Linked DNA regions of Homo sapiens: region 2 is linked to region 1. Evidence: fine-mapped expression QTL. A gene starts in region 1. The other region holds a variant in brackets. All regions are shown on one strand. Distances are from middle to middle.

Region 1 (5,378 bases):
CAGCCAGTCCCTCCCCTGCCCTGGTCATCCCTGCTTCTTGTCCTCACCCGCATTTCCCCACCTCTGTGAGCTCCTATCCCACTGCCCACCACCTCTGACAAGCCTTCCCATGCTTCTCTTGACCTCTGCGCCTCCACACCTGCTCTCCACCTTCACAGAGTCAAAAAGTGAAAGAGTTGTACAAACTCTTGTTTGTGCCAATTGGTGTCCCTGGTCTCCAACCTCCACGGGACCTTGAATGCCCCCGAGGATGACAAAGTGGTTGAGGTCATGGCTTTGCAGCAAGGTTCGGGTTGGAAGCCCCCCTCTGCTCCTTGCTCCATCTCTGATTTTGGGCCCTCCCTGAGGCTTGTTTCTTCCTCTATAAAATGAGGACGTGAGTAACACCTGCCTCATATGATTGTTGGAAGAATAAATGAGAAAAGGCGTGGGCACAGCGTAGCTCTTGGCACTAAAAATAAGTGAGTTGTTGTTTCTGTTATGAACTACAACTAACACTGGTACTCGCGCTTGTCTCTGCTCAGACTTCTCTCTCCCATTTCCCTCACAGGAAATGAAAACCCTCAGTATTGTCCTTTAGCACGCCACGCTGTCCCACCCCTTGGCTCTCAGAACATGATCTCGTCTCCTGCTGCACTAAGAAAAGCAAGGTGCTCACTTGTGGAATTTCTTCCTCTTTCTGCCTTAGCCCTGCTCACTTGCAAACTCATCAGTAGCCTCCTCGCCCTCATCTCCACCCCGTCATTGTTTGGGTACGGGGCCTCCAATCTCATGCAGGCCCATCTTCCCTCTAAGCTCTAGATTTGTCCTTCCCATCACCAAGCCTTGCTCCATCCGTTGTCCCTCCTCTCCCGGCGCGCTAGCACCGTTCCCCTCCTGCTCCTCCTTCCCCTGCTCGTAGAGACTTTCTCAGTCTCCATCTTCTAAATGCCTTCCCTCAAGTCTCATGCTGACTGCTACTCCCTTGTCTCTTTCCCCCTCTTCTCGCCCAAACTCCTGGGGAAAATCGCCACTTTCTCCCTCCCGCTTGTTTTCCAACCTGGTGAATTGGCCTCCCTGCCATCACCGCGCGCTGAAACTGCTCTGCGGGTCCAAGGAGGCCCCCTTCGACTCTGTCTCATGGGAGCTCTCAGCTGTACTCATGCCGTCCGCCACCCGCTGTTGAAAGGCTTGCCTCTCCTGGTTTCCACGATGCTCCCTTCTCCCAGGTTTCCTCCTCCCTCTCTGGCTGACTCTCCTCCTTATCCTCCGTGGAATTCACTTCTGCCCAGGCCATAAACGCTGATATGCTTTCTAAGGCCTTCCTGCCTTGAGCCCTCTTCTCTTCCACTTTGAGGAAACCCCCTGGGCAGCCCTGCTGTTAGCCACCGCCTGAAGGCTGGCAACCCCTGTGGCATCTTCCCCAAGACCTCAGAGGCAGCTACTGGCAGGACACTTCCACTTGAATGCCCTGCAGGCACCTCAAACCCAGCACATCTAAACAGAACCACTGTTTCCATCAATGCCTTCTTCTGCCTTGTGACTTTCCTTATGTGCTTTAAAACATGATGGGCCACACATTTACCCAAACTGGAAATATGAATGTCATTCTTCACTCCTTCCCCATGACATCTTTCACCCAGTTCCAACCAATCAGTCCCAATGTCCTGTGGATTCCACCTTCCCTCCGAGAGCACCGTCCTTTCCTAGGTTCACACCTCCATCCTGGCTTCCTTCATGGTCTTCTTGTATCATGTCTCAACCACTCTTCCAAGCTATTCTATACACATCCATCAGAACAAATTTGTTAAATGAAAAGCCCAGCCCTGTGACACCTTGGATGGCTCCCACCATAACTGCCCCTTCGAGGTCCACACGGCCCTTCACGACCCTTCACAGCCCAGCCCTGCGGCCCACTCCCTCATTCACACGTTATGTTTCAGCAGTGCCACCTTGTTCTCTCACAATGACCTTGCTTTCTAGAACATTCACCCTCTCCTTTCCTCTACATGGTTAACTCTGACTCATACTTGAAGGGTCTTATCAGAGGTGTGTTCCCCAGTGAGAGTCTCCTGGCATGCCACCACCCCCCACACTCTCACACACCCGATCTTCCACATCCTCTGTCACACGAGGCTGGAATAGATGTCAGTCTTTCCCACCACAAAGTTAACTTCTGAAGAACGGCGGCTGGTCTTATTTATCTGCATGTCTTATTTATCTGCAGAGTTGCTGGCATGGAGTAGCTGCTCTGTGGCTGCTTCTGAAACTCAAGTCCACAAAAGGCGTGGCCACAGGGACATGAGACCTTCTTCTCACCGCGAGGGGAGTGAGAAGGAGGAGGCAGCCAACCTGGTGGAGTTTGTCAAGTCTTTGAACACTGTGCCAGGCCTTTCCCAGAGCTTTTCCAACTTAATCTCATCCAATCCTCTCAGCAATTGAAAGGTGTGGGGTTAATATCCCTAAGTTGTAGAGGAGGAAACTAAATTGACTGCTACACATGGACTGTTTTTGATTTTTTTTTTTTTTTTTTTTTTGTAGAAAAGTGACTTAAAAGGAATTCCATCCTGAGCATTTCACAACAGCTCCAGAGTTTCTCTCTCTCTCTCTCTCTCCTCTCTCAGCTGGTCACTCTTCCAGGCCAGGATAACCCCACCCTAACCACCACCTTGTTTTTCTCCACCTGGTCTCTGGCCAGACCAACCCAGCGCCCCTGTTAACAGCCCCAGGAAGAAGGGAAAGGGGGCTCACTGATCAGGGGTGCTCCCCGCAGAGCTGAGACCATGGTGACAATGGCAGCAGCAGCAGTGGCTCAAAACCCTGCTTCAGCTCAAGATGTCCCCCACAACCTTGCCAGGGCCCCAGGCACCCAGTGTTAAGAGAACAATGGGGAAGGCAGGCTCCAGGCCAACGGAGGGCCTTCTAGAACTCCAGCTCTGTGAGCTCATCTTCCACAAACAGCGCCACCACAGAGCTTTGACTAGCCCACCTGAGCCCTTCCACTCAGGGTCCAGAGGCAGAGCAGGATATCTAATCCCAGCCCCCTTGCACATCTCTGCCCCACACACACACACACATACACACATGCGCGCGCGCACACACACACACACACACACACACACACACACACTACACTGAGGGATGACACTTCCTCTCCCAACAGATCTTTCAGATGATTATCCAGGGATAATGGTAGACACCTAGGGATGGTGATGGATGTACAGAGATGGTGATGGGTACCCAGGGATGTTAACAGGTGTGCAAGGACAGTGGTGCGTGTGCAAGGATGGTAGTGGGTGCCCAGAGATGGTGGTGTGTGTGCAGGGATGGTAGTGGGTGCACGGGGATGATGGTGGGTGCCCAGGGATGGTGATAGATGTGCAGGGATGGTGGTTGGTGCCCAGAAATAGTGGTGGATATGCAGGCATTGTGGTGGGTGCCCAGGGACAGTGGTGGGTGTGCAAGAACAGTGGTGGATGTGCAAGGATGGTAGTGGGTGCCCAGGGATGGTGGCAGATATGCAGTGATGGTGGTAGGTGCCCAGGCACAGTGGTGGGTGTGCAGGGACAGTAGTGGGTGCCCAGGGATGGCAGTGGGTGCCCCAGGATGGTGGTGGGTGTGCAGGGATGTTGGTGGGTGCCCAGGCACAGTGATGGGTGTGCATGGATGGAAGTGGGTGCCCAAGGATGGTAGCAGGTGCCCCAGGATGGTGGTGCATGTGCAGGGATGGTGGTGGGTGTTCAGAGACAGTGGTGGATGTGCAGGGATGGTAGTGTTGGGTGCCCAGGGATGGTGGTGGATGTTCAGGAATGGCGGTGGGTGCGCAGAGGCAGAGGTGAGTGTGTAGGATGGTGGTCAGTGTGCAGGTACGGTGGTAAGTGTGCAAGGATAGTGGTAGATTCCCAGAGATGGTGATGTGTGCCCAAGGATTGTGAGGGATGTGCAGGGATGGGGGTAGGTGCCCAGGGATGGTGGTGGGTTCCTAGGGATGGTGGTGGTTGCCCTCTGCTTTTCCAGGCTGCCCATCTCACCATGAAGCTCCTTTGAGTGCCAGAAAGTTCTTCCTTAATGCTGAGCCACAAGCCACTCCCTTCTCCACCTGGATGATGGCCATTCAGTGTGGACAGGTGCAGGGCAAAGGTTACCCTATTGACCCTAAAACTTAAAGGACAGAGAATTGGAAGGAAAGGGCATGTGGTGCCCACGTCTGTGTCCCACAGGAGCCTGAGTCCCACAGCACAGCAGCTAGAGCATAGGCTTTGGGGTCAGGCTGACCAGGGCTGAACACAGGCGCTAGTGACTTCCAGGTGGATGACCTAGAGAAAACAGCCTCACTTTCTGATTCCTTGATTCTCAAGCGGGGATGACAACACCAACCTCACAGGGTACTAGGAAGGCTCAATGAAACAGCAACAAAGTGCTTAGTACCCCAGGTGCTCAATAAATAATAGTAATTACTACTAAGTGCAGAGCACAGCCATAAAAGTGTCTGGTTGCACCATGTCCACCCTATCTGTCTGGGCCCCACCCCAGGACAACCAAGTTAAAATTGAGGGATGGCCCAGCATCAGCACCAGTATTTTTTTCTTTCATTTTTTTATTGAGGTAAGAACACTTAGTAGGAGATCTACCCTCTTAACATATATTTAATATGCAATCCATTATTGTTGACTGTAGAGGACACTGCTGTACAGCAGCTCTCTTGAGCTCATTCATCTTGCCTGACTGGATTTTCTTTTTTTTCTTTTTTTCTTTTCTTTTTTTTTTTTTGTTTTTTGTTTTTTGTTTTTTGAGATGGAGTTTCACTCTTTTGCCAGGGCTAGAGTGAAGTGGCATGATCTCGGCTCACTACAACCTCTGCCCCCTGCGTTCAAGCTATTCTCCTGCCTCAGCCTCCCAAGTAGCTGGGATTACAGGCATGCACCACCACGCCTGGCTAATCTTTGTATTTTTAGTAGAGACAGGGTTTCACCATGTTGGCCAGGCTGGTCTCGAACTCCTGACCTCAGGTGATCCACCTGCCTTGGCCTCCCAAAGTGCTGGGGTTACAGGCGTGAGCCACCACACCCAGCCACCTGACTGGATCTTTATGCTCATTGATTAGTAACTCCCTGTTTTCTCCTCCTGCCAGCCCCTGGTGACCACCATTCCTCTCTTTGATTCCATGAATTTGACTATTCTAGGTACCTGATAAAAGTAGAATTATTTCCTTTTCTGTAACTGGCATATTTCACTTTGCATATTGTCCTTAAATCTCATCCATATTGTTGCATATGTCAGAAATTTCTTCTTTTTTAAGCCTGAATAGTATTCCACTTTGTGTGTATACCACATTTTCTTTATCCATTCATCTGTGTGTGTTAGCTCATTTTGCATTGCCATAAAGGAACATCTGAGGC
Region 2 (5,378 bases), 22 kb after region 1:
GAGAGTTCTCCCATGGGCTTATTGAACCTGCCCCCTGCCTAGAGAGGCAAGAGGAGTAGTTCATATTCCCTATAGAGAATGAGGGGATTGCTGTGGGATCTGACCTCTGCAATGCAGGAAAGAGTAACGACAGACTCCTAGAAGTCTCATTTCCCATGCATCCTTATCCTCGTATAGAGCCAACATACAACGCATTCCTTCAGGACTGGTATCCCATCCTAGGGGAAACGGAGCCACTTTTGCCTGAGGTTGTCCTGCAGCACACACATAGCAATTACTCTTCTTGAGGGCTTATACCGAAAATTTGACCCATTAGACCCAGACATTCACATCCCTGTAAACTGTCTCAATTTCTATGATTTGCCTTAAATACTTTACCTCAATTATTTTTACCCTTTTAGGGTCATTATTTGGTGGACTAAAGTGTTTGTTAGGGTCTGGGGTTGCAGTAGTCCCAGGCAAATGGGAGGTTGAGTTATTGATTAGTTTGAGAACAAACCACCCTAGGGGTCTTTCCCTGTGATGTCTGCCCCTAACTTATGTACATAGGATGCTACTTCTGGTTCTTGGTCTAGAACAGCTGGATTGTCAATGGTGATGAGTATAGGATTGCATTCTAAATTCTGGCAGTTATTTGGTGGGGAGCTCTTGGACAGAGGTAGTTTATTCCTCAAAGGTCTTCAGCTCAGAGTTTCCCACCCCATGTTTACTGCCCAACCCTCAAATTGGGTAGTCCACCATACATCATCCCAGCTGGGGCAGGGTGATGCCCTACTGTAACCTGCATTTGACTCAGGGCAAAGATATTTATTCACCTGGGAGAGCTGTCTCTAATTTTCCAAATTCCCACAAGGTAAGACCTGGCAGGCATTAAATCTTATAGTTTGGGGTGCTACCATCTGGGTTATATTAACTACCAACCTGATTGGATAGGGAGGAGTCCCCTGCCAGTTTCCATTTTGACCTTCTGCTTCTTGTATAGTAGCCTATCCCAGCCATATTAACTTCCAGAAATGGGACCAGCTCATGTTTTCTTTTTAGATTTTTCTCAGAGTTAACTTTAAGGGTTCCTCAGGTGACCCATGCACTTTTCACCGGGTTTTTTCCCCTCCCTTCTGGGGTATCTTTTACCAGTTACTTGACTCAAGTATACTGAGTTCACCCCCATTCAGCTGTTTGCACAGCTGTCTCAGTGCTCAGGAGCACTTGATAAGGACCTTCCCAGCTTGGGTGCAGCATGTCTTCTTTCCAAGTCTTAATCAGCACCAAGTCACCAGGCTGGAAGTGGTAAACCACAAACTCAAGAGGCAGAATTTGAGTCAGAAGTCCTTTTAACCTAAGGGATAACAGGGTAGAGGATATGGCCAGTATATAATATCTTAAGAATTGATCAAAAAAAAATTGATCCTTGGTTTCCATAGTAGGGAGATCTGTAGCTCTGCCCAAATATGGGAGCCCATATAATAACTCATAGGGAGACAATCCCAAGTCTTTTCTTGGGGCTGTCTTAATCCTAAGGAGTGTTATTGGAAGACATTTTGTCCAAGGCATTTTAGTTTCTAAGATTAGTTTGATGATACACTTTTTGGGTGTTTGATTCATTCTTTCTACCTTTCCAGAGGAAGGGGGATGCCAAAGGGTGTGATAATCCCATCTAATTTGTAAACCTTCCATAATTCCCCTTAACAACCTTGAGAAAAAGTGGCTCCCATTGTCTGAATCAGTATTTTCCACCAGGCCAAATCTAGGGTACAATTGTTCTAATATTATTTTGACCACATTCCTGGTGGTGGCTGTTGAAAGGGGAAAGACCCAGCCAGGAAGGTGATCTATGATCACCAGTAAATACTTTAGTCTTCCTACTTAGGGCATTTCTGTGGTATCTACTTCAATGCTTTGAAATTGTCTTAATCTGGGAGGTCTTCCTCCCGTGGCCTGTTTTCTCATTATCTTTTTGTTTATCCTTTGACAAGCTACACAACTTCCACATACTTGTTTAATGAGGGTATAAATCCCTATACACCCATAATTCCTAAGTATTGCATTATACAGAGACTTGGATCCCCAGTGACTCCTTTTGCATAATACAGACATTAGTTTCTTATTGGGGGTTTACTCACACTGGTTCTTTCACACTGTCCACCT[T/G]TTTCTCGGCTGTCTGCTCTGGCTCTGCGGCTCCTGCCACCCCCACGCCTGCAGCTGCACTCCCTGGCCTGCTAGGCCAGCTTTTAGTCACAAAGCTAACCTTTAAAAGGCCTTGCCCACTGGTTCTTCCAGATTTAATCCAAAATATTTTCTCATCTGATCTCTGAGCCTCTGCAGGAATGCAGAGGGAGTTTCCTCTTTTTCTTGTTGAATCTCAAATGCCTTTACGACATTTTATGCCCTAGGAGTGGACTCTTTGATCTCTTCTAATTATTCATTCCTCCATTTGGGCCCAGTCCCTGGGATCTTTATTATCCAATTTGGGAATGACATTTGGGAATTTTTGTTTGGCTGGCAAGAACCCTTGCCCAGGAGAGTGTTGCCTGTCCCAGATGGTCATGACTGCTCTCCTAATCATTCCCCTTTCTTCTCCTGTGAACAGTATATTTATAATAGAATAATTTTAGCCCAGGTGTAAAAGCTGGGTCCTAGGATTTGGTACAGCTGGTCTGCTAAACTGAGGGGATCTTCTAGGAGTGGTTTCATTTCCTTCTTGAAATTCCTAACTTCAGTACCTGTAACAGGAGCATTTACAAAGCCAGTCTCTCCCTGTCCCATGGGAACTTCCCTAAGAGGATACATGCTAGATGCCTGCTGTGTGGAGTGGATAGGGGAGTTTTCAATATCCTCTTACACTGTTCTTTTTTTTACATATATACTTTAAGTTGTAGGGTGCGTGTGTACAACGTGCAGGTTTGTTACATATGTATACATGTGCCATGTTGGTGTGCTGCACCCATTAACTCGTCATTTACATTAGGTATATCTCCTAATGCTATCCCTTCGCCCCCACCCCCAACACCCCACAACAGGCCCTGGAGTGTGATGTTCCCCTTCCTGTGTCCAAGTGTTCTCATTGTTCAATTCCCACCTATGAGTGAGAACCTGCGGTGTTTGGTTTTCTGTCCTTGCGATAGTTTGCTGAGAATGATGGTTTCCAGCTTCATCCATATCCTTACAAAGGACATGAACTCATCCTTTTTTATGGCTGCATAGTATTCCATGGTGTATATGTACCACATTTGCTTAATCCAGTCTATCATTGATGGACATTTGGGTTGGTTCCAAGTCTTTGCTATTGTGAATAGTGCTGCAATAACCATACGTATGCATGTGTCTTTATAGCAGCATGATTTATAATCCTTTGAGTCTATGCCCAGTAATGGGATGGCTGGGTCAACTGGTATTTCTAGTTCAAGATCCTTGAGGAATCGCCACAGTCTTCCACAATGGTTGAACTAGTTTACAGTCCCAACAACAGTGTAAAAGTGTTCCTATTTCTCCACATCCTCTCCAGCACCTGTTGTTTCCTGACTTTTTAATGATCACCATTCTAACTGGTGTGAAATGGTATCTCATTGTGGTTTTGATTTGCATTTCTCTGATGACCAGTGATGACGAGCATTTTTTCATGTGTCTGTTGGCTGCAAAAATGTCTTATTTTGAGAAGTGTCTGTTCATATCCTTCACCCACTTTTTGTTGGGGTTGTTTGATTTTTTCTTGTAAATTTGTTTAAGTTCTTTGTAGATTCTGGATATTAGCCCTTTGTCAGATGGGTAGATTGTAAACATTTTTTCCCATTCTGTAGGTTGCCTGTTCACTCTGATGGTAGTTTCTTTTGTTGTGCAGAAGCTCTTTAGTTTAATTAGATCCCATTTGTCTATTTTGGCTTTTGTTGCCATTGCTTTTGGTGTTTTAGTTATGAAGTCCTTGCCCATCCCTATGTCCTGAATGGTATTGCCTAAGTTTTCTTCTAGGGTTTTTATGGTTTCAGGTCTAACACTTAAGTCTTTAATCCATTTTGAATTAATTTTTGTATAAGGTGTAAGGAAGGGATCCAGTTTCAGCTTTCTACGTATGGCTAGCCAGTTTTCCCAGCACCATTTATTAAATAGGGAATCCTTTCCCCATTTCTTGTTTTTGTCAGGTTTGTCAAAGATCAGATGGTTGTAGATGTGTGGTATTATTTCTGAGGGCTCTGCTCTGTTCCGTTGGTCTATATCTCTGTTTTGGTACCAGTACCATGCTGTTTTGGTTACTGTAGCCTTGTGGTATAGTTTGAAGTCAGGTAGCATGATGCCTCCAGCTTTGTTCTTTTGGCTTAGGATTGTCTTGGCAATGCAGGCTCTTTTTTGGTTCCATATGAACTTTAAAGCAGTTTTTTTCCAATTCTCTGAAGAAAGTCCTTGGAAGCTTGATGGGGATGGCATTGAATCTATAAATTACCTTGGGCAGTATGGCCATTTTCATGATATTGATTCTTCCTATCCATGAGCATGGAATGTTCTTCCATTTGTTTTTGTCCTCTTTTATTTCATTGAGCAGTGGTTTGTAGCTCTCCTTGAAGAGATCCTTCTCATCCCTTGTAAGTTGGATTCCTAGGTATTTTATTCTCTTTGAAGCAATTGTGAATGGGAGTTCACTCATGATTTGGCTCTCTGTTTGTCTCTTATTGGTGTATAGGAATGCTTGTGATTTTTGCACATTGATTTTGTATCCTGAGACTTTGCTGAAATTGCTTATCAGCTTGAGGAGATTTTGGGCTGAGACGATGGGGTTTTCTAAATATACAATCATGTCATCTGCAAACAGGGACAATTTGACTTCCTCTTTTCCTAATTGAATACCCTTTATTTCTTTCTCCTGCCTGATTGCCCTGACCAGAACTTCCAACACTATGTTGAATCGGAGTGGTGAGAGAGGGCATCCCTGTCTTGTGCCAGTTTTCAAAGGGAATGCTTCCAGTTTTTGCCCATTCAGTATGATATTAGCTGTGGGTTTGTCATAAATAGTTCTTATTATTTTGAGATACGTCCCATCAATACCGAGTTTATTGAGAGTTTTTAGCATGAAGCGCTGTTGAATTTTGTCAAAGGCCTTTTCTGCATCTATTGAGATAATCATATGGTTTTTGTCTTTGGTTCTGTTTATATGATGGATTACATTTATTGATTTGCATATGTTGAACCAGCCTTGCATCCCAGGGATGAAGCCCACTTGATCATGGTGGATAAGCTTTTTGATGTGCTGCTGGATTCAGTTTGCCAGTATTTTATTGAGGATTTTTGCATCGATGTTCATCAGGGATATTGGTCTAAAATTCTCTTTTTTTGTTGTGTCTCTGCCAGGCTTTGCTATCAGGATGATGCCGGCCTCATAAAATGAGTTAGGG

Evidence for each region. PIP is the estimated chance that this variant, and not a neighbour inherited with it, causes the effect. A credible set is the group of variants that fine-mapping cannot tell apart.
Region 2: its variant is the best candidate, but not a certain one, in a credible set for the expression of SPACA3 in tibial nerve (GTEx, PIP 0.52).

What each region holds. Positions count from the first base shown.
Region 1 is chr17:32,989,325-32,994,702 of GRCh38, reverse strand. SPACA3 (sperm acrosome associated 3) reads right to left here and starts at 2,856. Exons shown (of 5, transcript NM_173847.5): 1 at 2,731-2,856. The coding sequence starts at 2,764.
Region 2 is chr17:32,967,236-32,972,613 of GRCh38, reverse strand. No RefSeq gene overlaps it. Among named protein-coding and RNA genes, the nearest start is that of SPACA3, 22 kb to the left of the region's middle. The variant T/G (reference allele first, on the strand shown) is at 2,146.